Linked DNA regions of Homo sapiens: all the other regions are linked to region 4. Evidence: fine-mapped expression QTL. A gene starts in region 4. Each other region holds a variant in brackets. All regions are shown on one strand. Distances are from middle to middle.

Region 1 (6,497 bases), 140 kb before region 4:
GTAATTCAAAGGGAGACAATGGAAGAGGAGCTGGTTTGGAGGCTGGGCTGTTGGTGAGGTCAGCTTCGGAAATGCTGAATTCAAGAAAGAGGTGGATATTCACAAGGAGTGGACCAGAGCAGCCTTAAGAATTAGGTGGTCAGTCATTGTTTTTACTGAAAAAGCCACTTTGCCTAGGAAGGTATTTGGGGACATATTTTGGTCAATGTTTGTTTGTTTATCATGTTTTTTGAGACACAGTCTCAATGCCTGTAGTCCCAGCTGCTTGGGAGGTTGAAGCAGGAGAATCTCTTGAACCCAGGAGGTGGAGGTTGCAGTGAGCCAAGATGGCACCATTGCACTTCAGCCTGGGCGACAGAGCGAGACTCTGTTTAAACAAAAATCCCAGCATTTTGGGAGGCTGACGTGGGCGGATCACTGAGGTCAAGAGTCTGAGACCAGCCTGGACAACATGGTGAAAACTTGTCTCTACTAAAAATACAAAAATTAGCCGGGCATGGTTGTATGTGCCTGTAATCCCAGTTACTTGGGAGGCTGAGGCAGGAGAACTGCTTGAACCCAGGAGGTGGAGGTTGCAATGAGCTGCACTCCAGTCTGGATAACAGAGCAAGACTAAAAATAAATACACACAGATGTTCATCACAGCATTATTTATATTAGCTTTATGGGGAAAAAAAGCTAATATAAATAAGGCCATGATGAACATCTTTTTTCCCATTATTTATATGGGAAACAAGTAATATTTGTAACAATAGGGGAGTCCATCATGTCCATCAATTTGGTAAAATAAGATGGATTACAGGAACTGTTTTAAATACTTTACAAATGCAATATTAATTCATTTAATCCTCACAGCAATCCTATGGAGTGTGTATTATAATTGTAAGTCCCATTTTACAGATGAGGAAACTGAGGCTTGGAGATTTTAAGTAATTTGTTCAAGATTACACAGGTAATAAGTAGCCAAGCTGGCATTTGAATCAGGCTGTCTGGTTCCACAGTCTTTGCTCTAACCACTACAACATTGCCTCATGGTATTTTATTTTGCCTGACTTTCTTTGTGTGTGTGTGTGTGTGTGTGTGTGTGTGTGTGTGTTTTTAGACAGAGTCTTGCTCTGTTGCCCAGGCTGGAGTGCAGTGGAACGATCTCTAGCTCAGTGCAAACCTCCACCTCCACCTCCAGGTTCAAGCGATTCTTGTGTCTCAGCCTCCTCAGGAGCTGTTATTACAGATGTGTGCTGCCATGCACAGATAACTTTTGTATTTTTAGTAGAGACAAGGTTTTGCCATGTTGGCCAGGCTAGTCTCAAACTCCTGGCCTCGAGTGATCCGCCTATCTCGGCCTCCTAAAATGCTGGGATTACAGAAGTGAGCCATTGCACCTGGCCTTGGCTGATTTTCTTTTCTTTTTTTTTTTTTTTTTGTGACAGAGTCCCACTCTGTCATCCAGGATGGAGTGCAGTGGCACCACCTTGGCTCACTGCAACCTCCACCTCCTGGGTTCAAGCAATTATCTCGCTTCAGCCTTCCAAGTAGCTGGGACTACAGGCGTCTGCGAACGTGCCAGGCTAATTTGTTTTTTTTTTTTTTTTTTTTTTGAGACAGTTTCACTCTTGTTGCCCAGGCTGGAGTGCAATGGTGTGATCTCGGCTCACCACAACCTCTGCCTCCTGGGTTCAAGAGATTCTCCTTCCTCAGCCTCCCAAGTAGCTGGGATTACAGGCATGTGCCACCATGCCCAGCTAATTTTGTATTTTTAGTAGAAACAGGGTTTCTCCATGTTGGCCAGGCTGGTCTCGAATTCCCGACCTCAGGTGATCCACCTGCCTCGGCCTCCCAAAGTGCTGGGATTATAGGCGTGAGCCACTGTGCTCGGCACCCGGCGCCTGATTTTCTCAGAAGAGTTTTGTAACAAGGCAGGGTGCGATGGCTTGCACCTGTAATCTCGGCGCTTTGGGAGGCCAACATAGGCAGATCAGCTGGGCCCAGGAATTTGAGACCAGCCTGGGTAACATGGTGAATCCCTGTTTCTACAAAAAATACAAAAATTAGCCAGGTGTGATGGTGTGTACCTGTAGTCCCAGCCACTCAGGAGGCTGAGATGAAAGAACTGATTGAGCCAGGAGGTGGAGGTTATAGTGAACTAAGATCATGCCACTGCACACCAGCCTGGGTGAGAGAACAATGCTCTATCTCAAAAATAAACAAAAACAAAATAAAACAAAAGAAAAACAAAGAGGAGTTTTAGAACAAAACTTTGGAGGAAAAACATATCCTCTCTATTCAGGGGAGAAGATCAGATAGGGAGAGCATGGTAATTTGCAAAATGCTCCCACATGTCCTGAAAACCAACCTGCAAAGCCATTGTTTTGATTAACCCCAATTTACAGATGAGGGAACCGAGGCTCAGACAGGATAAGTGGCCACTCAGAGGGATGTTGCCAGTCTGCGTGATTTCCAGTCCCACGCTCTCTCCACTACTTAGTGTAGTTTGGACAATTTCAAAACAGTGTGCGCCACTTCAACCTCGTGATCACTCAGGAAAACCACCAGGAACAAGCTCGAGTGAAGGCAAAGGTCTGGACTGGGCTTGCCCAGAATTAACTCGCCAACCTTGATGTCCTAGGGCTCAAATGTTTGAACAACTGAAGGACTGTCCCTTTTAGGCCTTCCTTTGCCTCAGGCAAGGGATCTTCCCTAAGGAAGGTTTGTGAAATTACCCTTTCTTTTTCTATTCTCCACCTCCCCCATAACTATAGGTTATTACAGCTTCTTCAGACCAACCTTAGTCTCAAAAGTCTCATCAGAGGTAGATAAGAGACCAGATAGGATGATAGTAATAATGAGGATAATAATAACTAAATTAATAATAATAGCCCAAGGGTGTAGATTACTTGCTATAAGCCAGATGTTGCCCTGGGCAACGTTTACATACATTTGATTCTCATGACAGTTTTATGGGAAAGGTACCATTTTACCGATGAGGAAACTGAGGCTCAGAGGGTGTCAGTCACAGCCTTGACTGGGGCTAAGTGGGGAAGGTGGGTTAGCAATCCATTGAGTGTGAGCTTTTGGGCCCTGAAACCCTCATTTACAAATTGACTTTAGAATCACCTCCCGTATGATTTCTTATCCAGGGTTGTTTTTTAAAAATCACCCCCATAAATGACTGTGTTCCTTGCATATCTGATATTCCCAGGAAACGTGGCTTTTCTGGAGAAGACAACAGTAGAGACACAGCAGCTTTTTTCTGAGTCTCACTCCGTCACCCAGGCTGGAGTGCAGTGGCGCGATCTTGGCTCACTGCAACCTTCGCCTCCCAGGTTCAAGCAATTCTCCTGCCTTAGCCTCCTGAGTAGCTGGGATTACAGGTGCCTGCCACCATGCCCAGCTAATTTTCTTTTTTTTGAGACGGAGTCTCGCTCTTTTGCCCAGGCCGGACTGCAGTGGCACTATCTCGGCTCACTGCAAGCTCCACCTCCCGGGTTCACGCCATTCTCCTGCCACAGCTTCCCAAGTAGCTGGGACTACAGGCACCCGCCACCGCACCCAGCTAATTTTTTTGTATTTTTAATAGAGACAGGGTTTCACCGTGTTAGTCAAGATGGTCTCGATCTCCTGACCTTGTGATCTGCCCGCCTCAGCCTCTCAAAGTGCTGGGATTACAGGCGTGAGCCACCGTGCCCGGCCACCCAGCTAATTTTTATATTTGTAGTAGAGACAGGGTTTCACCATGTTGGCCACGCTGGTCTGGAACTCCTGGCCTCAAGTGATCCTCCCTCCTCGGCCTCCCAAAGTGCTGGGATTACAGGCGTGAGCCACCATGCCCGGCCTCAGGCGTGAGCCTTTAATGATACTAATGGTCTGTAAACTACCTTATACTCTTGTTTTTTTTTTTAAACTCCTGCCCCTTTCTTTCCATTAAAAACAACTGGTGTTTGATTTTCATGATTTCTTCAAATTTCTTAACCTAGAAAAATGTAAATACACACACACACACACAAATATATATATATAGAGAGAGCACAAAACAGAACTGGTGGGAGATTGTGGTGAGGAATCATGGTGTTTTAAGTGGCATCCTTGAACATTCTACCAAAGCCGAATGGGAAGATGAGGAGAGTGTTGGGAGTTTCCGAACTGAAGTACAACTCCGTAACTGGAAGTTTTCAAGGTTGGAAGGCATTATTTTGTTAGTCCGTTAAGGGGCACATTATTCAAAGACTTGGCTGGGAATGAGTGCTAGGTGATCTGTAAATAATCTACGAGTAACGTCTACCAGGAGTCGAACATTAACATCGTAGAGGCCAGGCTTTCAAAGGGGTCATTGGCCTACAAAGGGAAGCATTGCCTCCACCCTTTAACTGTTTCTCTACAACTCCAACGATTGCATTAAAAGGACAGAATGGAGCAGGTAGAGGGTGAATTCAAATATAAACACCCTCTGTGGATGTGGCCAGTGAGGCAGTTAGAACCATTAAGTGTCTCCGCAGCAACAATACAACTGTTAGGTCAAGTGTA[T/C]GAAGGGTGAGGCCCCTTCGGGGCAGCTGTGAAAGAAAGCCCCTATTAATCCCTTAACTAAGCAGCTGATGGATTTAATCTTTTTGTGCATACATTATAACTCTTCGAACACAAGATTATTGTAAGGTTTTTTTTTATCAGCATAAGCTATCAAAGCTTTTTATAGATTTCTTCATCTCACTAATTAACAGATGACAGAAAACAGAACTTTGGAGAGCTTCTGGTTCCATCGCTGTCATTCTGGCTTCAAAAACTGTAAGAAAGCATCATTCCCTGATTCATTCACAAAAAGAATAGGTCTCTATTTGAAGAGCGAAGAGATCTCAGTCTCCTGCCTTACAGATCTACTTTCCTTTGATTTTGTATCCATTGTTATTTAAAATAACCACATAAAATGATTCTTTAGGGTTATTTTGCATAGTAATATCAGAAAAGAAAAGCATTACCTGGTATAATCTCCCTTGGCTTCCTAAAAACAACAAACAAAAACAGAGTTGATCAATATGTATCTTTGTTAAGCTAAATGAGTTTTATCTTGATTACTTTCCCCTCTTAAAGTTCCTGAGTTTTGTTTTGAAGAGTGTTTCTCAGGAATGCTCTCCCTATAGGCATAAGAAGAATTAGGCATTGATAAGAAAACCCTGACTGTCCTGTTAGGAATATTCCTTATTCTTAACAAAAGAAACATATGTATGTGAAAAAGCACAGATAATTATTTCTCACTGTACGTTTTTAAGATCACATGATAAATGCTTTTCATTCAAGTGGCACACTTTTTAGACTGGAGGAAGACCTTTTAAACCACAATACAGGTAAACCAACACATACTATTTGTTTTCCCTTTACTTTTTAAACCAGCATGGAAACAGACTAATGCCTTTAAGAACTAAAGGGCTCTTTTACTGGACCACAAGAAAATGTATACAAAAGTTACTAAATTTAAATGAAAATTACAGCTGTTGTAACAACTGCTGCCTCCCAAATTCAAGTATCCCAGAGCTCTCTTCCAGGAATATGGGTTTAATTCTTCTCCTTCAGAGCAGTCTAAATTTCATTTTTCTTTGAGACTCACAATATCACATTGTAGCTCATGCAAACTATTCTAAAGCAGAAGACGGTGGCGCACATTTTTCATCGGCAAACAACTAACTGGCTTAAAAATCCAACAAACACTGGCCCATGCAAAAGTTTCAGAGTTGCAGGCAGTTAACAAAAACGAACAAACACAAGGGAGCTGCTAAGAGGCAGTTTGTCCAATCTTACCTGTAAAATAAACGCTGCTAACTTGAAGATGGTTTCGCTCTCTACTTCGATTTGCCCCTGTTGATGGAAAAGGAAAGCATCATTGAACATGGGGCTGTCCTAGATTGTAGCAAATGGCTCTGAAGTTGAGGAAGCTGTCACAGCTTGGCACCTCCAGTTTACGATCAAATGCAGATCATACCATTGCAGGGGAAAGTGGGGGGTGTGGAGAGACTCATTGAGGGTTAAGGCGAAACCACTGTGTGTGCGTGTGTGTGTGTGTGTGTGTGTGTGTGTCTATTTTAAATAGCTGTGGTGACGGATTATGTGTAGAGAGCAGTATTCAGGAAGAAACGGGAATGACTTTGAGGCTAAACATTCAGAAAACTTCTAAATGAAAAATTTTTATCTCTGCAAGTTCATTTTTAAGCACTCTGCAGAATTTCCTAGATTCATTTGTTGAGTGTTTTCCTGGGATAATTTTTTTCCCCTGTGTTACAGCATGGTTATTTCAGTATACACACAATGTAAATATTATTAAAAATATAAATTCACTTCTGTGTCAATGACACATTGTTGAGTTCATATTTGTACTATTACAGATAAAATGTGAGGCCTTAAAAATCAGTTACAGCAAATGCTTTGAAGACTAAAATTCTGTTGATTTATATTGAAGTTCGAGGAACTCTAATTTATCAGTTTTCCTTTTTTTTTTTTTTTTTTATCATTCAAAA
Region 2 (8,252 bases), 25 kb before region 4:
ACCTGGGATTCAGGAATGTAGACTTGGGGAGCCCTGTTTAGGAGTCCCGTTGAAAATGAAACTATATCCTGGAATAGGTCCAAATGAAATATGAGCTTATATGTGAAACTGTGCCTATAAAATACAAATTGTGACACAGTTGGATGATCACCTAACTGGTGAGCTTGTACATATGTATTGGTGACTTTGTGGAGGGTTTTATTGACTGTGAGGGTGGAATAAAGGAAATATGTCCACCAATTTAAGGAAAAATTTGTGGAAGCAGGATCCCAATTTTTGTCTTTAGGAGAAGCTTTGCGTTTTATCTCAAAACTATCACTTTCATCACAGAACATTTCACATACTGAATGAATGCCAGACGCACCATAAAATCACAACAGAGGCAATGTATTGCAGTTTTCCAAAATTCTGACAGCTGGGCATAGCACTAAACCATTTGTCATAAAGTAAGAGGACAAACTTGAAGACCAGCTCATCTCCTCCTAAATTTAGTGAGGTTTGCACTAAAGAAAAAATATTTCCTCATAACTTCTCATCCTTCTCTAATTCAGCCTCTAGAAACAATTCAGTTTCAGTTCAAATATTTCTTGAGCATCAAATACATGCAGAGGCCTTACAAGGAAGTCAAATATGAAAACACCATGGTTCTGACCTTCGAAAAATTTGCAGCCTGGACCTGGCATCTCTCAAAAAGAGAAGAGTAATCACTTTATTTGTCACCTCATAGTCAACTCTGCAATTGAGGAATTACACATTTCTTTCACACACATGCTGGTTTCTGTTTTTAATCTTTTATCAATCTGTATGTCAGAGCTCCTTGGATACCTGATGATTTTTCTTAAATTTGCATTCACTGCAGTAATTATTTTTTGAATGTCTATCAGGTATTGGATGTCAGAGCTGGGTGTGTGGCCTATGTAGGCCCACAGGATTCAGTGCTCAGAAGGGCCTCATGCTTGGTTTAGTGTTCTGCTGTCTCACAATTCTTAATCATTTTTGAACAAGGAATCCCACATTTTCATTTTGCATTGTGCTATGGTTTGAATGTCCCCACTAAAACTCATGTTAAAATTTGATTGCCATTTTCACAGTATTAAGAGGTGGGACTGGCCAGATCCGGGGGGCACATGCCTGTAATCCCAGCAGTTTGGGAAGCCAAAAAAAACAGATTGCTTGAGTTCAGGAGTTTGAGACCAGCCTGGGCAATATAGTGAAACTCCATCTCTACAAAATACACAAAAATTAGCCAAGTGTGGTGGCATGCGCCTATAGTCCCAGATACTCAGGAGGCTGAGGTAGGAGAATCACTTGAGCCTGGGAGGTTGAGGCTGCAGTGAGCCAAGACTCTGCCACTACACTTCAGCCTGGGTGACACAGTGAGACCCTGCCTCAAAAACAAACAAATAAACAAACAAAAAAAGAAGTGGGACCTTCAAGACATGATAATGGATTATTAATTCATTGTCACAGAAGTAGATGAGTTATCATGGAGGTGGGCTTCTAATAAAAGATAAGTTCAGCCCACATTTTTCCTGTTTCTTCCTGTGAACCTGTGCACCCTTCTGCCTTCAGCCATGGGATGACCCTGCCAGATGCCAGTGCCATGTTGTTGGACTTCCCAGCCTCCAGAACCATGAGCCAAATAAATCTGTTTTCTTTATAAATTACCCAGTCTGTGGTATTTGGCTATAGACACAGAAAAGATATGTAGAGTCTGGTAAATTATGTAGCTAGCTCTGCTGGGCATGGTGCTAAGTGGTGGGGGAACAGCAGTGAGCAGGAGAGGTATCCAGAGGGTGGCATGAAACAAAAAATAATTTAATTCATAAATGAGGTAATTTCAGACAAGAGTAAGACTTAGGAGGAAAATAAAGCAGGAGGACATGATAAAGAGGGGTGGAGAACGCTGTATGGGGAGAGTGAGCTCCTGGATTAAGACTGGAGGTCAGGAAAGAGCCAGCCACAGGTTAGTTGGTTTCAGGACCATTTCTGCCTTGTTCAGGGCTATAACACGTGGAACCTGGAAAGTTCTCAACTAATATTTTGAATGAATAGAACTTCTGTTTAAAAAGGAAAAGTACCAAATACAGAAAATTAATTCATAATTTAGTACAAACTGGGACTGACCGATAAGGAACATTTAAGTTTATTTAAGGTCTCCTTCAGGATCACATGTTTTAGCAGCTGGAGGGGGTGCACTATGTCCAGGAAAAACAACCC[T/C]GATGGAAAAGTTCATTACTCATATTCCCCTCTAGACAGAAAAAGAGGGAAAACTTTTGTGCTCGGCGAATTTTCTTGTTTTCTTAACCATAAATGGAAAAACAGAGATGAAAAGAGGTAGGGAGAGAAGCAGGCATGATAGGGGTTTCCTTTCTGTCTGTTTCACAGGTTGAAGGCCATGACTTTTGACTTGGTTTTACCATAAGGCACGTGCAGTTTTTTAGGTGACGCACATAAACTTTGTAAAATTGAGTCTCATCTCTGTGTTTGGAAAAATGAAGAGAAAAGGGTATTCAAAGTTCATTCTTGAAATCCATTTTACAAATGGGAAACTGAAGCACGGAGATGTCTGGTAGCATAAGTCTCCCCAGTTGGGGGTAGAAGAACAGGATTTGAACCCAGGGCCCATGCTCTTACAAATGGCCTTTCCATTTGGCCATTGTAGACAAGGTGGAATGCATCCAGGGGTTAACACTCAGGCATTCTGTTAGATTTCCTTCCTGTCTTTCTGCAGAACCTGGAGTTTTGTTTTCCCCTTTCTCTCTCCCTTTGTATTCCTTTAAAACCAAAACAAAAAAGTTTTTGTAGTGGAAAATTTCAAGTACACACAAAAAGTCAAAGACCAGTGTCATAACCACCTCCCATTTTTCCACCTAGTTTCAAGTTATCAACACCTGGCTAATATTGTTTCATTTATATTCTTGCCTACTTTCTGTCCTCCTATATGTATTATTTTGAAGCAAAACCAAGACTTAAGTAATTTCATCTGTAAATAATTCAATATAAAAGATAAGGACTCTTTTTTAAACATAACCCTAAATACTTAAAAAAGTTAACAGTAATTCCTTAATATCATCAGATCTCTAGTCTTCAAATATCCAATTATCTGATTAATGTCTTTTTTCCCCAAGTTTGTTTGAATCAAAATAAAAAAAAGCTCCACATTTTGCAACTGGTTGATATTTTCCTTAGGTCTCTGTTAACCTACAGGTTCCTGTTCCATCCATCTCTCTCTTTTTCTCTCCTCTCTCTCTCATTGCAATTCATTTGTTGAAGAAACTAGGCTGTTTATCCTGTAAATTCTCCTAGCACCTAAGTTTTGCTGATTGCATTCCCTTGGTGTCACTTAAATGTTCCTCTGTTTACCATGGTTCCTGTAGGTTGGTTGAGTCCCAAGGCTTTATCAGATTTCAGTTAGATCTTTTTTGGCAATACTATCTCATAGGTCGCCACTTGTGTTTTTTCATTAGAAGAGCCATTTCTTTTTGTGACATTAGCAGCTGCTAATGCTCAACAGCTATATCATTTAATTAATTAGAAGTGGCAGTATGATGGCATTCTAATTCTATTATCCCTTACTTACTAGTGAGAATATTTCTATAATGAGAGATTTTTTTCCTTATCTATTAATTGGTTACCCAGTAGTATAATTCATACAAGAAAGGCAGAGAAAATGTTTGACTCTTTATCTTTATTTGCCAGTTTCCAAAATAACGAGTTGGGTACTTTCAAGGGTGGTCAAAGTGCATTTTGTCATTATGAACATATGCATTTAAATATAATTTATGTGTTTCAATCCATTAAAGTTATTTTCTTTTTTTAAAATTTTCTTTACTGATATTCAGATTGGGCCATTTTGGTGAGTGAGAGCCTCTTCAAGCCAGTTTCCAAGTCCTTGTGACATGGTTTTAGTAGTATTTGTCAGCTTCCTTGCTACCAGTAGTATTTGTCAGCTTCCTTGCTACCTGGGATAAAAAGATGCTCATCTTGTGCATTTACTACTCAAAACCTGGGCAGTGTCTGTTACTGCTTTTTGTTTCATTTAGAAAATTACACTATAAATGATGCATAATAAAAATACATATTTTAGGTATTACAGCCATGTTATCCACATCCCCCCCAAGATATAAAACTTTTCCAGAAAGCTACCTCTGCCAATCTTTCCCTACCTCCCATAACAACCACTATTCAGATTTCTATCACAATAGATTAGTTTTTCCTGTTGTAGAACTTCATACAAATTGAATTATGGAGTATGTATTTTTTAATACCTGGCTTCTTTTACTGAGCAAAATGTTTTTGATATTCATTCATGGTGTTGCATGTATTAGCAATTCATTCATTTTCTGATCGCTGAGTAGTATCCATTGCATGAATATAGTATAGTTTATTTATCTCCTCTCTTGTTAATGGAAATCAGTTGTTCTCAGTTTGGGGGTATTAGAAGTTATAAGCTATGAATATTCTTTTACAAGCTGTGTGTGTATGCATGTGTGTGCACATGCATATGTTTTCATTTCTCTTGAATAAATGTGCATGAATAGAGCTAACAGATCATAGGATGAATGTACGTTTAACTGCCAAATAATTTCCTAAAAGGTCATACCATTTTACACTGCCAATATATGAGAGATCTGGTTATCCCACATCTTTGCCAAAATGTGGTATTATAGGTCTTCTTAATTTTAGTTATTTTAGTGACTGTGAAGTAGTAGAAGCATTTGTGTTTAAGTGACTTTTTGTTTGCACAGGTATAGGTTTAGGTGATAATTGTAGATTAATAATAACAAGCACTTATATAGTACTTCATATGTGCCATACTCTGTTCCTGTTTATTATAAATATAAACTCCACAATAACTTTGAGGTCGGGACTATTATTATTATCTCCATTTTACAGATGAGAACACTGAGGCATAGAGAGGTTAAATAACTTACATGAAATCACAGCCAGGAAGTAGCAGATGAAGGCTTTGAACCTACACAGTTTGGCTCCAAATTTCAGGCTCTTGACTTGTGTGCTCTTCTGCCTCTCACAATTGTTAATTGGAATCCTTTCCAGTTCTCTAGCATTTCACTGAGACACTGGTAAATATTTCTGGTTAAGACAACTATCACGAAGTCAGGAGCTCGAGACCAGCCTGACCAACATGGTAACACCCCATCTCTACTAAAAGTACAAAATTAGCTGGGCACGGTGGCGCATGCCTGTAATTCCAGCTACTCAGGAAGCTGAGGCAGGAGAATCGCTTGAAACTGGAAGGCGGAGGTTGCAGTGAGCCGGGATCGTGCCACTGCACTCCAGCCTGGGTGACAGAGTGAGACTCCATCTCAAAACAACAACAACAAAAAGCCAACCCCCCCCCCAAAAAAACAAACAAAAAACAAAAACAAACTATCATGTTAATTTAAAAATCCCATACTTTTTAAAATAAAGAACTGTGAATTTTAAACAATTTCTTTCTATTCCTGCCCATCTTATTCTGAACTTAAACATTTTCCTTATATCAGCACATCTCCAATTTTTATTATATGTTTCCTAAAAAGTTTTTCATTTTGAATACTTTTGTTGTTGTTGTTGGACAATTCTTCTATAAGTCCTGACCTTCAAGTCCTGAGCTTATATTGTATCAGAATGCTTTTTACAGTAAAAAAAAAAAAAACAAACAAAAAGTGAAAATAACTTTAATAATATGGATCTATATTCTCAGTATCTCCAGGTAGGGCAGTGCCAAGGTTGGTGAGGTCAACAGATTAGCAATATCGTAAAAGTCCCAGGCTTCTTCTATTTTTCCACCCGGCCCATTCTTCTTACGTAACATTCCCTCATGGTTGCAATATAGCTGCCATCCTTGAAGCTCTCACATCTCCACTCCAAAAAAAAGGATCACTTCTTTTTACCATGTTTTTTTTTTTTTTTTAAATAGAGATGGGTCTTGCCATGTTGCCCGGGCTGGTCTTGAACTCCTGAGCTCAAGTGATCCTCCCATCTTGACCTCCCAAAGTGTTGGGATCATAGGTATGAGCCTCTGCACCTGGCCTCCATGCCTTTTTTTTTTTTTTTGAGACGGAGTCTTGCTCTGTTGCCCAGGCTGGGGTGCAGTGGCACAATCTCAGCTCACTGCAAGCTCCGCCTCCTGGGTTCACGCCATTCTCCTGCCTCAGCCTCCCGAGTAGCTGGGACTACAGGCGCCTGCCACCACGCCTGGCTAATTTTTTGTATTTTTAGTAGAGACGGAATTTCACCATGTTAGCCAGGATGGTCTCAATCTCCTGACCTCGTGATCCGCCTGCCTTGGCCTCCCAAAGTGCTAGGATTACAGGCGTGAGCCACTGCACCTGGCCCAGCCATGCCTATTTTCAAGAACAGACAGCTTTTTAAGAAATGGCTCCCCATTGACCAGAGCTGGGTCCTATGTTTACCCTTAACCAATCCCTGGCAGAGGAATAAGGTCATCATGACTAGCTTCAACCACAGCTTCAAAACCAGTGTACTGAGGCAACAGGTGTACTGAGCTATTGGTCTTTTCAGGACTGGAGGCAGCCAGAGACAATTTGGTGATCACCTCCAGCCTGAGCAGCTTCTTCCATTTACTCCAGGTGCCACACAAACACTATCATTTTCTGTGTATTCTATGACATCAGAGAAAGTAGGGAAGCACTGGGTTAGAGACCAATCAATCAGTATTTACCCAAGTTATATGGGCAAGGGGGTGATATTGATCCCTGAACCAAATCAGGCCTCTCAGGATGAAAGAAGCAAAGAATGGATGTTTAAATCAGGCTTAGAAAATGAACACAAAACAAGAGAACCCACAGGGAGCAAAGTAACAAGTTATGTCACGCGACTATCTTGCCTGTCCCACTCACCTCAGTTACTGCCTTGATGATTCTGACTTCCAAACATCCTGTCCTTTTAGCTCAAACTCAGAAGACAGGAACATGCAAGTTTAGCCAAGCTGAACCAGGGGACAGACAGAGGACAAGCTGGCCCCTTGGTGGCCACGGCAGGAAGCATGCGCTGGGACCTGCCATTTTGCCATCTGCCTGGTGGGCACCTCCAGAAGGGAGACTGGGTGCTAATGGTATGCCAGTGGTGAGTGAGCAGCTAAAAAATATGACAAAAACATTCATTGGGAAACTTCCTGCAGCAATTCCAGTTTGCCTCTGAGTCAGCCTGGCTCTGGTTAAAGTCTATATACAAACAAATCTGTGGGTCAACCCATCTTCACCCTCAGGGCACTATCTCCAGAATAACCATGGCATTAATGGGATCAGCAGTTTCAATCATCTCCTGAGTAATCAGTTCTGGTGCCTCCCCAAATGAGACAAATGACAGTTTCATGGTCGCTCGTGGCTATGAAATCTCATCGAGACAATTCGACTCTGGTTAAATTATATTTAAGTTAATAAATATGAATTTAGATGGCCAAAGAAGCTCAAAAACCCCTGGGCATCTAAGACAAAAAAGAAAAAATAAATGGTGCAGCATTCTGTTCTCCTACCCCAAGCTTTCTCACTTGTTTTTTTAAAAAAATAAATAAAGGCCTTGGTGATTCCTTCTCAGTTCATCTAAATGAAGTTTAGGCCATTTACAGAAGAGATAAAACAAAATTGCTGAAATTCACTAAACAGTAAAGGAGGAAACCACAATATGAAACCGAATAGTATAGTGATTATAAAAAGCAATAACTATTCTCAGCCATTTCTAAAGCTTAAGATTTTAGTGCATAACAGAGAGGCTGTGTGAACATCTATCTTTATGGCACTTGGGTTTTAACCAGCAATGCTCTATATAAACCTATTTTAACTATACAAGGAAATTCCATATCACTCTGAGATGACAAATATTCTCTAGGAGACTAAAACCTGCTCTCAAGTCTGGCTCTAAAATTGTTCTCAAACCAATTTATACTGTGACAAAACACAGTATGTGTTTCCCCCAATGTTATCGGGCAAGAACAACTCCAGTATTCCAAGTATCATGGTCCTTAAGAAAGTTATGGAAATTGGACATCTCTACTAATAAATGAAGTAAAATAAAAACAAATAAAATGTACATTTTTGGCCAGCAGACTGGTATAAATCAAAGTTGCTAGCTAGAATGTGGACAAGAATGATTCTTATTCACTTGGTAGTAGCATAAATAGATACAACCTTTGTTTTTTTTCTTTTTTTTGAGATGGAGTCTTGCTCTGTTGCCCAGGCTGGGGTGCAGTGAAGCAATCTCGACTCACCACAAACTGCCTCCCG
Region 3 (8,252 bases), 33 kb before region 4:
TTATCTCAATAGATGCAGAAAACGCCTTTGACAAAATTCAACAGCCCTTTATGCTAAAAACTCTCAATAAATTAGGTATTGATGGGATGTATCTCAAAATAATAAGAGCTATTTAGGACAAACCCACAGTCAATATCATACTGAATGGGCAAAAACTGGAAGCATTCCCCTTGACAACTGGGATGCCCTCTCTCACCACTCCTATTCAACATAGTGTTGGAAGTTCTGGCCAGGGCAATCAGGCAGGAGAAAGAAATAAAGGTATTCATTTAGGAAAAGAGGAAGTCAAATTGTCCCTGTTTGCATATGACATGATTGTATATTTAGAAAACCTCATTGTCTCAGCCTAAAATCTCCTTAAGCTGATAAGCAACTTCAGCAAAGTCTCAGGATACAAAATCAATGTGCTAAAATCACAAGCATTTTTATACACCAATAACAGACAAACAGAGAGCCAAATCATGAGTGAACTCCCATTCACAATTGCTTCAAAGGGAATAAAATACCTAGGAATCCAACTTACAAGGGATGTGAAAGACCTCTTCAAGGAGAACTACAAACCACTGCTCAATGAAATAAAAGAGGACACAAACAAATGGAAGAACATTCCATGCTCATGGATAGGAAGAATCAATATCGTGAAAATGGCCATACTGCCCAAGGTAATTTATAGATTCAAAGCCATTCCCATCAAGCTACCAATGACTTTCTTCACAGAATTGGAAAAAAATACTTTAAAGTTCATATAGAACCAAAAAAGAGCCCGCATTGCCAAGTCAATCCTAAGCCAAAAGAACGAAACTGGAGGCATCAAGCTACCTGACTTCAAACTATACTACAAGGCTACAGTAACCAAAAAAGCATGGTACTGGTACCAAAACAGAGATATAGACCAATGGAACAGAACAGAGCCCTCAGAAATAATATCACACATCTACAACCATCTGATCTTTGACAAACCTGAGAAAAACAAGCAATGGGGAAAGGATTCCCTATTTAATAAATGGTGCTGGGAAAACTGGCTAACCATATGTAGAAAGCTGAAATTGGATCCCTTCCTTACACCTTACACAAAAATTAATTCAAGGTGGATTAAAGACCTAAATGTTAGACCTAAAACCATAAAAACCCTAGAAGAAAACCTAGGCAATACCATTCAGGACATAGGCATGGGCAAGGACTTCATGTCTAAAACACCAAAAGCAATGGCAACAAAAGCCAAAATTGACAAATGGGGTCTAATTAAACTAAAGAGCTTCTGCACAGCAAAAAAACTATCATCAGAGTGAACAGGCAACCTATAGAATGGGAGAAAATTTTCACAACCTACTCATCTGACAAAGGGCTAATATCCAGAATCTACAATGAACTCCAACAAATTTACAAGAAAAAAACAAACAACCCCATGAAAAAGTGGGCAAAGGATATGAACAGACGCTTCTCAAAAGAAGACATTTATGCAACCAATAGACACATGAAAAAATGCTCATCATCACTGGCCATCAGAGAAATGCAAATCAAAATCACAATGAGATACCATCTCACACCAGTTAGAATGGCGATCATTAAAAAGTCAGGAAACAACAGGTGCTGGAGAGGATGTGGAGAAATAGGAACACTTTGACACTGTTGGTGGGACTGTAAACTAGTTCAACCATTGTGGAAGACAGTGTGGCGATTCCTCAGGGATCTAGCAGTAGAAATACCATTTGACCCAGCCATCCCATTACTGCGTATATACCCAAAGGATTATAAATCATGCTGCTTTAAAGACACATGAACATGTATGTTTACTGTGACACTATTCACAATAGCAAAGACTTGGAACCAATCCAAATGTCCAACAGTGATAGACTGGATTAAGAAAATGTGGCACATATACACCATGGAATACTGTGCAGCCATAAAGAAGAATGAGTTCATGTCCTTTGTAGGGACATGGATGGTGCTGGAAACTATCATTCTCAGCAAACTATCGCAAGGACAAATAACCAAACACTGCATGTTCTCACTCACAGGTGGGAATTGAACAATGAGAACACTTGGACACAGGAAGGGGAACAGCACACGCTGGGGCCTGCCTTGGGGTGTGGGGAGGGGGGAGGGGGGAGGGATAGCATTAGGAGATATACCTAATGTAAATGATGAGTTAATGGGTGCAGCACAGCAACATGGCACATGTATACATATGTAACAAACCTGCACATTGTGCACATGTACTCTAGAACTTAAAGTATAATAATAATAAAAAAAGAAAACCAAATGAGAAAATAAACCAATACAAGACAACAGAAGTGTGCATACCTTTACAGCCTGATCTACAAAAGCTTCCTTTAAGGAAAAAAAAAGCAACTGAAGTATACAGCAAGCCCAATACCTTCCTTTCTTAGATTGCTGTTATTGGAATAATAAATTGATTGTTTAACCTTGCCAAATCACATAAACATATATTAATGTATAGTTTACCTGTACTCAGGCTTACTTTTCCAGTTTAGGAAAATATTGCATTTAAAATTTTTTCTAGTTTTCCAACATTAAGCAAGAAAAAAGTCTTAATTGGAGCTTCACAGAATCTACCTCAGGGACAAACGTAAGTCTCATACTTGAATTATGATCCCGAGACAGGCCTCTGCTGAGAGCTCACTAGTATTTTCAGGTTGCCAAAATATTTTTGAAACAAAGAGAAAGTGTTTTAGTATGGTTTTACCTAGCACTATAGCTTTTTGTGATAAGAGACAAGACATGTAGTTCTTTTCCTGGGGTCTTTTGCACACCTGTGCACAGGCTTCTGCTAGCAATTGGAAACCATGCAGAACAGAAAGCAGAATCTCATTTGGATGCAGCTCCCACTTTTCTATTCCAAGATGCACGCACCCATGTAAAGAAACTCTTGCTTCATGAAATTCAGAGATGCTGGAAATTAGGCAAAATCATCCTCTGGCCCAGAAAAGGCAAAGGGTGGACAGAGCATAGATTCGGAACTCAGGAGATCCAGAATCCAGGCTGTGCCCTGCCCCTAACGGGATAGGAAGTCTTAGAAAAATTCCTCCTCTTCTCTGGATTTTAATCTCTTCAGTAACAGAATGAGGAGATTGGACAAAGTGACTTACAAGGTTTCTTCTGGTTTAAATGTTCCATGGCATAAATATATCTAACAATTCTGCTCAGCCAATAATATTTGTCCACCACCCATCACCCTGCCTCCTGATAGTTACTGGGAATTCTCTCCATGGGTGAGACATAGTACCTGTCTGCAGCAACCTCCATTCTAGTAGTAACAACTTCCCTGCATACTTCAAATGTAGGATCAAACACAGTGGAACACACAGAGTATGCTCTGGAGTGGGACTTGGTATATCTGGGAATATATTAGGCCCTCTGCTAAGAGCTGTAGTTTCTGACCCCTGAAAGAGCTGCATAACAAGATAGTCTTACTTCTCAGGATGTTCTATGGCCTGAATCTTCAGAACAGGATCATTTATAATGAGGCCTTAGGTCACCATAATGTCACTCTGAGAATCCAGGTCACAGGACTGCATTTGGATAAGATTATATTCCTTTTCACTCCTTCGGACATTAGATACCTTTAGATAGGACCGATTTAGAGACAATGGACTCATTTCTAAGGCTACACTATTATGTTGTTACATTATAGCAAAAGGGTACTATTCCAGTTCCTATTGTGATATATTTAATTTCTTTGATGTTTCTCTTCTCTACCCAATCCTGCCCACTTCCTCTACAGACTTCCTTCTATCCCCAGGAGTTTTGCAGTCTACTGGATGAGATAATTTCCTTTGTTTTTTACCCAGATATTCCTCCCCTCCACCATCAACATCTACCCATCAAGGAAGAAAAATGGCCACATGGAGTTGGACTTAATGAGTTTGCCATAACCACATTACAAGGCAGCAAAGAAAAAAAACCTTCCCTTTAATAAGGATGTAGGACTTCCTCTGACAAATCATAAAAGTTTTATTAATTAATTGGAAGCCGTCCCCAAAAATGGCATTTCCGAGGTTTCTATCTTGAACTGCTGAATTCTGATCACATAGAATCCTCACCACAAACTAGACTGGAGGACAAAATTCAATTTTCCTTCTTCTTTCTGGAGGCAAAGCAGGGACCCACATCAAAGGATCCTTTCAGATGGGCTGCTAATGAGCTCTAGGACACCACGGAATTTTTGTTGCCAAGTGTTCACAAAAACAGGGAAGGCCCCAAACACATCTTGCTGATGAAACGATGAACAATTATAAATCAAAAAGCATTTCTGTGTTGCTTACTGACACAGTTCCTGCCCTCTCTCTGTCTTTTCTACATCCATAAAGAAACTCCAGTATTTAAAATTTAAAAAAAAAAAGAAGAAGAAAAAAGGAGAGTGGTGGGAGCAGGGGAAAGGGTGATGAAGTGGAATTACATACTTCATATTTGCCAAAGTTCTAAAGCAAAATAAGAAATCAGCCTTTCACGACCTTTAAAGGAGCAAAGATAGCATTAAAACAATGACAGGAAAACCCTCCAGACGATGGGCGTCTTTAAGGACCATCTTCACTTGGTATCAAACAGAGCACATCCAACTCCGTTTTGGAAAAAGTAATTCCTTCACAAGAGTGAAGATAAACATTTCTTGTAATTTCCTTTTCTGCAAGTTGGGTTCTGCAATATTAGTTCTTAGATTAGTCCACCCCCAGTACAATATTAAAATCTGCCCAAGATTTTGCTATGAAATGCCAGTCAAAGCTGAAGAAGCACCGTTACACAGTCTGCAACTGGAAGATCATAAAAAAAAATCATTCTTACCTCCGAACCACCATGACCTCGGCTCATTTAAAGGAACTGAAGAGAGTGCTTAAGACAAAAGACACACGTATTAAGCACTTGTGCGGTGTGTGTGTGTGTGCGCGCGCGTGTGTGTGCGCGCATGTGCTTGCATTTTCTCCAACTACAAGCCAGTGGAAGTAGGAACTTAAAAACTCCCGACGCCTTCCGCTGCCATATAATCTCAAGGAAATGACCATACTGTTTGTTTCTTTGATTAGAAACAAAAGCCTTTCAATATGAGTCACGGGAGAAATGGGAAAATAAAAACAACTAAAAAACTTCTGCT[A/T]TTTCTTTTGGCCACTCAAACGCTTTCTTTACAACACATTTAAAACATATGATGAAATGTCATCTACTGTTTTCTAAACTTCCTTGATAATGCAAGCTTTAGGTTGGGTAATTATTCAGAGATAGGCGATGCCATGTATGAATCTAAACTTCTATGCATGTTCTGGATGAGGCTGGGAATTTAATGAATATAAATAAAAACAATATTTAACTCAACTTTGCTACTCACAGCCAGTTGATGTTAACAGCTTTTCCACTCAGAAAGAAACTTAGAATTCCATGGAACAACCTTAGTAAAATCAATCAGAGATGCCAGCCACAACAGAAAATCTTGGCAGAATGACGTGGTCTCAGAAAAGATTCATTTCACTATTTGCATTTAATGAAATCATTACTATTGAAGTCATTCAGTGAATAGGAAATAATCAAAATACATTATGCTTGAAGGCAGAGAGAAAAACATATAGAATACTGGAAAAATAATAAATTTACTTTTTTTAAAAAAAGAGAATGACTAAGTAAAAGTTTGTGACAGGGTATCATGCTTCTCCCTCCTGAAAAAAAGAACAGTCTGGAATTTTGCTCAGGAGTATGGTATGGTTAAGAATATAACCATAAGATTAAATCTCTAAGACTCTCTAGAGTCAGAGAAACCTCGTGTTTTACAGTTGTATATATCCTTGGGAAAGTTACTTGATCTTTCTGAGAATTGGTTCCCTCCTTTGTAAAATGGAGATAAAAATCCTGATCTCCTTCAGGAGTGCTGGGGAAATTAAAAGAGATAGTTCATGCAAAGCTCAAAGAATTTGCCTGGGAGATACCACAGGTATCTAAATATAGGGTGGGGTACCTCCCTTTACCCCCACAAAATGTTAATCCCTCAGAAACCGGGGAGTGGCTTTATCTTCAGATCCTTCTAAAGACTCTAATTACTATGACCACAATATACTGTCTGGGGAAGACATGGCAGCCTGTAACAACTTCAGTCAATGCTAAGTTTGGATGCAAATAGAAGTCACTTGATGATATCAGTAGAAAAGGTGGCAAAAAGTTTAATACATATTTAGTAATTATTTGTGAGCACGTGACCTCCCAATTGGACGGGTTGGATGTTAGAAGAAACAAGTTACTTAAACATTATTTCATGCACATATACTTGTAGGATAAATGGAAAAAGGAAAAAAAAAAAAGCTGGGCAATGATATTCCCAGAAAAGCATCATATATGGAGATTGAAAAAGTGCTATATAGCTCAAACAACTTGGGCAGAAGTGGAGATGCTGCGCTGTGATAAAAGGATGACTCAAAGAGGACTTTTGTTCCAGTGCCAGCACACACATGCACATGAAGAAGCTGAATAAAATTATCCTATCAAGAGGGAGAGCACAAGGCAGAAATCACTCCAGTTATTAATCTGCATAACAAGTGTTATGAGCACTCCTAATATTAGGAGTAAATTTTCTAATATTTCATATACATTTCTAAAATTTTATATAGGTTGACCCAAAACATTTGCCTGAGTCTTCTTGTTTGGAAGGTGGGGAATTATTGTATTACTTTATTTGACAGAACCTTCTATTTGTTAATATATAACAGTAAAAACTCAATACATGGTACCTTTTCTTACTGGGTTGGAGAGTCGACTGAGAGAACTAGTGGGACATTTCTGATTGTATGGTAAAAATGTTTTCACTGTTGAAGGACAATCGGAATGTTGATAGCCAGTTTCAGCAGCAAGTTGGGCTAGATTAGGCAAGGCTAAAACCAGGAGGCCAGGGCAGCTTGAGGGCCAGATGAAGGTTGACAGACCAAATTAGGGGGGAGGCTGGGTAAGCTCAGGTTATGGTGTGAGAACACATAGAGATGGAGTCTACCAGGAGTATTAAAATTAGGAGGCCGGGCACAGTGTCTCACACCTGTAATCTCAGCACTTTGGGAGGCTGAGGTTGGCAGATCACCTGAGGTAAGGGGTTTGAGACCAGCCTGGCCAACATGGCGTAACCCCATCTCTACTACAAATACAAAAATTAGCCAGGTGTGGTGGCCGGCACCTGTATTCCCAGCTACTCGGGAGGCTGAAGCAGGAGAATTGCTTCAACCTGGGAGCCGGAGGTTGCAGTGAGCTGAGATCACACCACTGCACTCCAGCCTGGGTGACAGAGCAAGCAAGATTCCATCTCAAAAAAGAAAAAAAATTAGGAAACAGGATCCCCGCTTTTCTTTGGGGACACCATCCAAATAACTGGGGGTAGGGGGGAACCCCATATCCCCATATAAAGAAGATGAATATGTGATTCAAGACTGACCAATAAAATCACTCTACCCCCATGTGATGGTTAATACTTAGTGTCAACTTGATTGGATTGAAGGATGCCAAGTATTGATCCTGGGTGTGCCTCTGAGGGTATTGCCAAAGGAGATTAACATTTAAGTCAGTGGGCTGGGAAAGGCAGACCCACCCGTGATGTGGGTGGGCACCATCTGATCAGCTGCCGCTGTGGCCAGAATATAAAGCAGGCAGAAAAATGTGAAAAGACAAGACTGGCCTAGCCTCCCAGCCTACATCTTTCTCTCGTGCTGGATGCTTCCTGACCTGGAATATCAGACTCCAAGTTCTTCAGTTTGGGGACTCGGACTGGCTCTCCTTGCTCCTCAGCCTGCAGACGGCCTATTGTGGGACCTTGTTATCATGTGAGTTAATACTTAATAAACTCCCCTTTATATATAGATATATATATACACACACACATACATATATACACACACGTATATATACATATATATAATATATATACATATATATATAATATCCTATTAACTCTGTCCCTTTAGAGAACCCTTACTAATACACCCCATACCCATTAGTCATAGGGATCAGAGAAGAAGTATCTTTGTTTTTGTTTGTTCTGGAGTTACAAAGTTGCTTGGATGAAAATCTGGGGCTACCAGGAAACCTCATGCCAGACAGAAGAGTTGGAGAGAGACATACTCCAATGTCACTGTCTGAATTATGAAATGCCATTGAACCTGAAGTCATTCCCTGGCCTTTTCAGTTACTGAGTCTATAATTTCCGTTTCTGCTCAAGCTGGTTCTGATTTTTAAACAAAACTTTATTTGCAAACAAAAATATCCTATCTAATATG
Region 4 (8,252 bases):
CCAGTGTTTCTTAACCTTTTAATTCATTGTTATCTGCTTAAGGAGCCTTTTTAGATTTTTGTTTGTTTGTCACCCCTCCTATTTTATTTCATTTTATTTATTTATTTTGAGACAGAGTCTCACTCTGTTGCCCAGGTTGGAGTGCAGTGGTGTGATCATGGCTTACTGCAAACTCCATCTCCCAGGTTTAAGTGATTCTCATGCCTCAGCCTCCCGAGTAGCTAGGATTACAGGCATGTGCCACCATGCCTGGCTAATTTTTGTATTTTTAGTAGAGATGGCGTTTTGCCATGTTGGCCAGGCTGGTCTCGAACTCGTAAGCTCAAGTGATCCACTCGCCTCAGCCTCCCAAAGTGCTGGGATTACAGGCATGAATCACCACACTCAGCTACTTTTTGTATTTTTAGTAGAGACGGGGTCTTGCCATGTTGGCCACGCTGGTCTTGAACTCCTGACCTCAAGTGATCTGCTCACCTTGGCCTCCCAAAGTGCTGGGATTAGAGGTGTGAGCCACTGCACCCAGCCCAATCCCTCCCATTTTAATGTCACAGATATGCTGTATTTCTGTTTATATATTGCATGTATATTCGTGCTTTATAAATAAAAGTAGTGAATTTTTTTCCCACCCCCCTCCTCCAAAACAATTTTTGCCTCCTTTGGGCCATTTCACTCTCATTGAGAATGCATAAATTGTCATCCCATACTCTGTGCCAATCAGTGCATGGCATCAGGAGTGGGTACAGACCCTAAATTGGAGTTCCAGCATGTAAACTGGGACTTTTTTTTTTTTTTTTTTGATAGTTGGAGGATATGAGAAATTCTTTCTTTCTGGATGTGTGGATATAAGGCCTGAAACTGCTGTGATTATCTGCTATTGTGAGGGAAGAAACCAGCTGAAGATAAAGCCAACACATCAGCAAGACCAGGTCTGAAAGCATGGTACCCTGATCAAACAATACCTAAAGTTCATTCTACTGCTAGACTTTTCAGCTGTGACAAAAGTCATTTCTTTTTACTCTGTAGGCAAGTTTGAATTGGGTTTTCTATTATAATAAAAAAAATCCTAACTCATGGAAAAGATAACATTTATTGGATGCTTTCTAAACTCCAGGCAGCGTGCTAAATATCTCACGTCAATTAATTCTTTTATCAATCTCTGTGATTAGTACTATTAATTTCTCATTTTATAAATGATGAAGCTGAAGTATAGTAAGATTAACTTACCCACGGTCATACATAGGCAAAGACTGGATTAACTCCCTTGTCTATTTAACTTGCAGTTACTGTCTTTTAGTTCTACACAATTAAGTCACTACTTTTTCACTTAATATTTGAAAAGCATTAAAAAATGATCTTCCTTTGCAAAGGATTATGTTGCACAATTAAGAATATTCAAAGGCTGAAAATATTTTTGAAAATCTTATTTTTGCAAAAGCACAGGAAATATTAAACTTAGAGATCATTTTCTTCTGATTCTGTATTCATAAAAGCCTTTGTTATTTATTTTCATTGATACATATTAGATGTACATAGTTCGGGGGTACATGTGATAATGTGACACATTCATATAATCAAAGCAGGGTTATTGGGATAGCCAATGCTTTAAATATTTTAATTAATTAATTTTTTAGAGGAGGTCTCCCTCTGTCACTTAGGCTGAAGTGCAGTGGGACAATTATGGCTCACTGCAGCATTGAACTCCTGGGCTCAAGTGATCCTCCTGCCTCAACGTCTTGAGCAGAGAGAACCACAGGTTCATGACGCTATACCTGGCTGATTTTTAAATTTTTTGTAGAGATGGGGTCTCACTATGTTGCTCAGACTGGTCTTGAACTCCTGGGCTCAAGTGATCCTCTCACTTCAGCCTCCCAAAATGTTGGGATTACAGGCATGAGCCATGGTGCCCAACCGTTATCTTTTCTTCGTGCTAGAAACATTCAAATTATTCTCTTCTAGTTATTTTGAAATGTACAATTGATTAAAGTTAAAAATAAGGAGTGGGGACTTATTTTTTTTTTATTTTTTATTTTTTTAAGAGATGGGTCTCACTATGTTGCCCGGGCTGGCCTCAAACTCCTGGGCTCAAGGGATCTTCCTGCCTCAGCCTTCTGAGTAGCTGGGATTATAGACACACAGCACACTGCCTGACTACCACCATTATTTTAGATGTTCTTATCAATTATGATATGGTATTGGCTCAGTCACCATCCATTTTAGAGAAAAGAAAAAAATACATATATTTTAGTAGCTCAGTGTCTCAAATTGCTATTCTGCATAAAAATTATCAGTCAACCTTATAAAGAATCCATAAGGTCTCAGGTTTCTGGAATCTTTATTTTTGAATTGGTCAGTAACAGTATTACAGATAAGCCATAAATCCTCTGAATCCTTGGGGAGTGAGGCACAGAGTCACTCTGGTTGGCTACAATATTTGCGTTCCCTTTTTGAAAGTTTCTCAAACACTAAAAAGGAAAAACAAAATTACATAAGGGGCACTTATTCTACAGACCAAACTGAACAGGGATTTCCCAAGAGAGGAAAAAAAAGGCTTGAAAGACAGACACACTTCTGGCTCCAAAAAGCCAGAGAGCTATGTAATGTGGCCAGATGGGATATATCCACAATTCCCTAATACTCTCAAACTCCCACATGCTGCCCTGGTTCCCAACCTGCCTTTCAGATTCCATTTCAAAATGCAAGATATCACAGATATGTTATACAAAGCAGAAGCAGTGAAAGCACAAGTTCAAATGTTCCTCATATTTTAACAAGGGTGACAAGGGGACGCTGACTCTTTAGACTTCCACAGGCTAACCTTAGGTGCTGGCCTTTTCATTTTGCCTGATTGATGGAAGATTATGGTTTGTCAAAATCAAGTGCTTGATCATGTATGAGACACAATATAATAAGACATAAATTCTAGACATATTAGGAACAGGGTCAAATGGGGGGAAATCCAGGAACTGCAACAAAGCTATTCCACATCACAGGAAAGAAAATATGATATTATCTTTCCACAGTAGACACCAAGTATATTTCTAAACAATGCAGATTTTTAAAAATCTCAAATATATTAACAACCAAAGCACAGAACTTTTAAATTCATAAATTACTGTCTAAAAAAAAAAAAAGAAATCCAGGCAAACTGCAGTACCAGAGAGGATGAATGGTCTCCTAGTTGAGCAAAGTTGCTGCATTTTTTGCCTGCAGGATGGGACCGAGCAGAGAAATAAAGGGGCTGTGTTGTGTGACAGGGAGTAAATCCTAACATGAGCATTCCAACGTGTAGCCGGGCCACCCCTCCCTTCCCCAGCCTGTCATCCTCCTGCAAAGTGTTCACAATTTGCTGTCCTTCCTTCCAAAAGCCAGTAGACACAGAATCAGCTTTTCCTGGCTCTGCCTTACAAGTTGGGGCTGCCTGATGGAAAACTGAAAATCCAACGGAAGGATAAAAATCCACCAAGGCCCCCTCTGCCAGCAAATTGGTGTGAAACCGTTGCTTCAGAAGCAGCCACTCCCACCCCCAATGAAATTAAAAAGAAGGACTCATTTGAATGTCTAAGTGGCTTTCTGAAGACCCTCTGTTGCAAAGCAACAGCCTCCCTAGTCAAGCGCCCGCCAGTACACCATTGCTCTGTAACAGATGTCTGCAAACGCTGGGACTATCTCGCAAGTGCCCCCCATGCCCGATTTGAAAAATTCACAAGCTCTGTCAAGCAATAATTACCTAGAGCTGCTGAGCGTTTGACCCAAGGGCCAAGCAGTCTGCTAGGAGTTTAAGAAGAGCTGGGGGGAATAAAATCATACAGGTGGAGCCTGCTTCCCACGAGTGCCCGGCATCCTGCTGGGGCCCTCGGGTGCCGCGCGCTCCAGCTCACCTGGTACACGTCCTGCAGCCCGCACCACGTCCGCAGCACCTGGTGGCAAGCCCGCAGCCTCTCCGTGTACCATCTCCGCAGCGTGGACACGGTCAAGTTCCATACGAAGCGGCTGCCGCTGAACAGCAGGTCCTCCACGCCACACATGAACACCGAAGCCATGCCTCCTCCTTCGCTCTGAACCCGGGCGTCCCGGCTCTCGTACGTGCAGCCCCGACCCCAGCGGCCTGCCCGCCTGGGCTCCCGACGCCGGCTTCTGCTGGCAGCCGGGGGGTCAAGCCTGCCACCAAACTCGTCTTTCACCGTGCGTCCTGGCCAGGCTCCGGCGGCATGCCCTGGGATTGGGTGCCCGCCAGCCAACGGCTGCGACTGGCACACAGAAGCCCAGTGTCCACCCCCGCCCGCTCGCAGCGCCGAGCAAGCTGTGCTAAGCTCCACCAAGCTGGCCCTCGATGCTCCCGGGGCACGGGAAGCCCTGGCCGGCGAGGACTCCCCCTGGCGCTTCCCCAGGGCGCGGGGCAGGGACGGAAGCGGAGCAACTCTTTGCAGGCAGAGAGGGGAGCTGCATTTCAGCACACTTGGCTTCCACGTCTTGCGCGCGCGCGAACACACACACACACAGACACACACCCCCCACACCGGACGAGTGGTCTCCTAATCTGCCTCGGGGAACACCTTACTCATCTTGCTCTGTTCACACTGATAAAACACCTCTGGGCAGCCACAGATGCAGAAGAGAGAGAGAGAAAAAAAAAAATCTCCAAGGCATCCCTTTGGACCCTACTCCTGGGGGAATAGCCACGAATGTTTCCTTGGTTCTGCTGGAAGCAGGAGATGAAGGCAACAGTCTCAAAGCAACAGGCGGCCCTAGAACCTGCCTTTGCTCCTAACTTGAGGGTCTCAGAGAAAATGACAGCCTCCTGTGGTTGCCAGCAGGAAGGCAGGTTTCCTCACACCAAGATGCTGCTAATACCAATGCAGCAGTCAGGGAGAAAAACAGAGTTCTTGGTCCCTTGTAAATAGCTTGCCGTTACTAGTGCTGGGAAACAGAAGCCCATAAGAGAATCGGTGGTTTAGTTCTGGAAAATTCAGCCTCTGGACATGTCTAACCTCACCTGCAAGCACCAACCTGCATGGGTAGTTTATTCTCCCCTCAAAACCAAAGGAAACTGTTCCACCACTCATGAAGTCACTAGATAATTAATCTTATTTATTTATTTATTAAAGTTTTCCCTCGGGAATTGATGCTGATTGTTGGAAACATTTGGAAAAGGGAGCTCAAGGAGTCTCGCCTACCACCAGTCTCTGTCTTCCTTTATTTATTTTTGAGACAAGGTCTGTTGCCCAGGCTGGAGAGCAGTGACTCAATCATAGCTCACAGCTGCCTTGAACTCCTGGGATGAAGTGATCCATCTTCCCACCTCAGCCACGGGGACTACAGGTGCTAAGTTTATTATCATTATTTTTTTTGTAGAGATGGGGTCTCACTATGTCGCCCAGGCTGGTTTCAAATGCCTGGGCTCAAGCAATCTTCCAGCCTCAGCCTCCCAAAGTGCTAGCGTTACAGACATGACCCATTGTGCCCAGCCTCCATTTTCCCTTAGAATGTATGAAGATTTCTCATAGCAAAAGTGCTGTAGCAAATTTCAGGATGGAGTTTTTTCCTGAATCCATCTGTAAGTCAATTGTCTGTATTTTCTTGGCTGTTTCACATCTGGGTTGTTATCTATGCTATTAAGTGGCACCAAAAGGAAAGGTAAGGCACCAAAGCTTTTCTCCTGAACTAGCCCAGAAGACTCCAGAACAGATTATCGACAAGTAAATCAGCTTGATTTCAGGTATCAAATGTGCTTTTATAATCTTAATTCAGGTGAAACTCAATCAGTCAAAAGACGAAGAACACAAAATCTGTCCTCAAAGTGCCTGTTGTTTTCAGTGACTGTAATCAGAAAACTTTTAAATGAGATTTCTTTCGTTAATAAAATTGCCCAAGAGTTTTTGTTGAATTAGTTAATAGGACACAAGACTTGGTCCAAGATTTGCAAACCTTTCTTCACAATAAGTCTTCTCTATGTGCCATCAGTATTAGTATTGATGGTTTTTTTTTCAAGATGATGGTAACGATGAATCTGAATATAATAGATTTTACTGAATCAAAAGAAAATGAACTTAGCTTGAAAAAGAACTGTCATCATGCTGAATGGAAAACTACTGAACTTCAAAAATGCCCTATTAGTACGAGCAAATGGTGGTGGTACTTTTTTTTTTTAAACGATGCAGTTCGACTGTGTTCTCGGAAATGTCAGGCAGCCAAGGGAATACCAGAATAAAACCTACAACAGGTCAATTACCTCTGTCTCATGACACCATCCTCTCAGAAGAGAGGCTCTAGAAACACTCTGGCTGTTAGCTATCTGTGCGTAGGTCTAATGTCAGCAGTCACTTTCAAATTCCATCATTTTCATTCAAGGTTTCCAAAGTCAGGGCAATTTTTTAGAAGATAGGATGTAGTATAATAGGGGCTCTCAAAGTGTGGTCACTGGGCCAGCAGCTTTAGCATCACCTGGGAATTTGCTAGAGATGCAAGCTCTCAGGCAGCCCTGGAATCAGAAATTGTTGGGGGGTGAGATCAGCGATCAGAGCTTTCAGTTGGCCTCTGGAGGATTCCGACTCATGCTAAAATTAGAGAACTACAATAGTGATAGTATGGTGATTAGGAGCTAAATCTTCTAAAAGAGACCCACCCAACTTCAGATCTCCTCTCCTCAGGACCCGTGAGACCCCATATAAGCTCCTTAAGTCAACAAAGTCTCAATGTCCTCATGTGTACAATGTATTATCAGTATTCACTACAAAAAGTTTGGGGAAAATTAAGTAAAATATTCTGTATAAGGTCTTTAGCACGGTGTCTGGTGAAGGGTAAGCATCCAAAGAAAACTAATCACCATAACCCCCCGAATCAAGAATTGCTTCAGTTTTTTGTAGTCAGATAAAACAGTATAAGTAAAATGTGGGTTTTTAAAATGATAGATTTAGTGAGTATAAGTGCAGTGTTGTTATATGGATATATTGCATTGTGGCGAAGTCTGGGCTTTGAGTGTAGCCATCACAAGAATAGTGTACATTGTACCTATTAAGTTATTTCTCATCCTTCATCCCCTCCCACCCTCTGACCCTCCCCAGTCTCCATTGTCTCTTAGTCTACTTTTTTTTTTTTTTTTTTTGAAACGTAGTCTCCCTCTGTCGCCCAGGCTGGAGTGCAGTGGCACCATCTCAGTTCACTGCAACCTCCGCCTCCCGGGTTCAAGTGATTCTCCTGCTTCAGCCTCCCGAGTAGCTGGAATTACAAGTGCACAACACCACGCCAGGCTAATTTTTGTATTTTTACTAGAGATGGGGTTTCAGCATGTTGGCCAGCTGGTCTCGAACTCCTGAACTCGTGATCCTCCCCCCTCGGCCTCCCAAGGTGCTGGGATTACAGGCGTGAGCCACTGTGCCAAGCCTTCTTAGTCCACTCTCTATGTCCCTGTGTACATATTATAAAATGTGTTTTTAAATTTCAACTAGTTACCTACATGTGCTTTCCTATGACTTTCTGTTTGCTGAAGGTGAAAGTTTGTGGCAACTTGTTTTCAGGGAGCAGTTCTGTTGCTCTTTCAAGTTCCCAAAAAGCTTTTTGAGCTTGATCTTCCCCACTAGAGGCAACTTGTCCCGTGGACTCAGAGAAGCTGGGTGCAAGACAGAAGACATCTTATTTCTACTGACATAAACACTGATGCTTTTTTTCTTATCCAAATGGCTTTCCTCTTTTGTAGAAGAAGTTCGAAGGTCAAGACTGAGTGATTTTAGAGGGAAGGAAATACAACTTCCTCCACTCCAGGGACTGCAGTGGGTGGCAACTGAACCCAGATGTGCAGAAGTGGAGAAAAGTGCTACCCAAGTATGGCATCATCCTTAAAATGGACTAGCCACATGGGACTAACCAGATCCCAGACACACACCCTTGAAGCTAGTCTAAAATTTTCTGTGGAAAAGGAGCTAAATCAAGCTAGCTTCAACATTGTCTTGCTTTTTCTTTCTTTCTTTTTTTTTTTAATTTAAGAAGAGGATTTTCTTTCCTCCTCAGCACAGAGTTCCCTGCAATACACTGTAATTTCCTGCAGCTCTCTCTGGAGGCTTAAGAAGATGCTTCGGGTGGCAGCATTACTCATACACCTGGGAGTTGTGCTGTCGTAAAAGAGAAATTGTCATTATGCCTGAGGCTCCTGTAGGTTCTCCTTTGAGGAACTGGCAGGAAGAAGAGCATGAATGCCAAGAAGATAGGACAAATTCCAACCCCTGTCTCTAGGAAGAAAGAGCAAGTTAGTGAAATGG

The links. PIP is the estimated chance that this variant, and not a neighbour inherited with it, causes the effect.
Region 1: its variant is fine-mapped to the expression of FRMD4B in naive CD4 T cells (Schmiedel 2018, PIP 0.91).
Region 2: its variant is fine-mapped to the expression of FRMD4B in aorta (GTEx, PIP 0.93).
Region 3: its variant is fine-mapped to the expression of FRMD4B in whole blood (TOPMed, PIP above 0.99).

Annotation. Positions count from the first base shown.
Region 1 is chr3:69,244,259-69,250,755 of GRCh38, forward strand. FRMD4B (FERM domain containing 4B) reads right to left here. Exons shown (of 23, transcript NM_015123.3): 6 at 5,785-5,841; 7 at 4,968-4,990. Among named protein-coding and RNA genes, the nearest start is that of LMOD3, 120 kb to the left of the region's middle. RefSeq lists an enhancer at 4,697-5,221. The variant T/C (reference allele first, on the strand shown) is at 4,522.
Region 2 is chr3:69,357,345-69,365,596 of GRCh38, forward strand. All of the region lies in intron 1 of FRMD4B (FERM domain containing 4B), which reads right to left. Among named protein-coding and RNA genes, the nearest start is that of FRMD4B, 25 kb to the right of the region's middle. The variant T/C (reference allele first, on the strand shown) is at 2,221.
Region 3 is chr3:69,348,741-69,356,992 of GRCh38, forward strand. The region is part of intron 1 of FRMD4B (FERM domain containing 4B); the gene reads right to left. Among named protein-coding and RNA genes, the nearest start is that of FRMD4B, 33 kb to the right of the region's middle. The variant A/T (reference allele first, on the strand shown) is at 5,111.
Region 4 is chr3:69,381,950-69,390,201 of GRCh38, forward strand. It overlaps FRMD4B (FERM domain containing 4B), which reads right to left and starts at 4,139. Exons shown (of 23, transcript NM_015123.3): 1 at 3,879-4,139. The coding sequence starts at 4,040. RefSeq lists an enhancer at 3,606-4,216.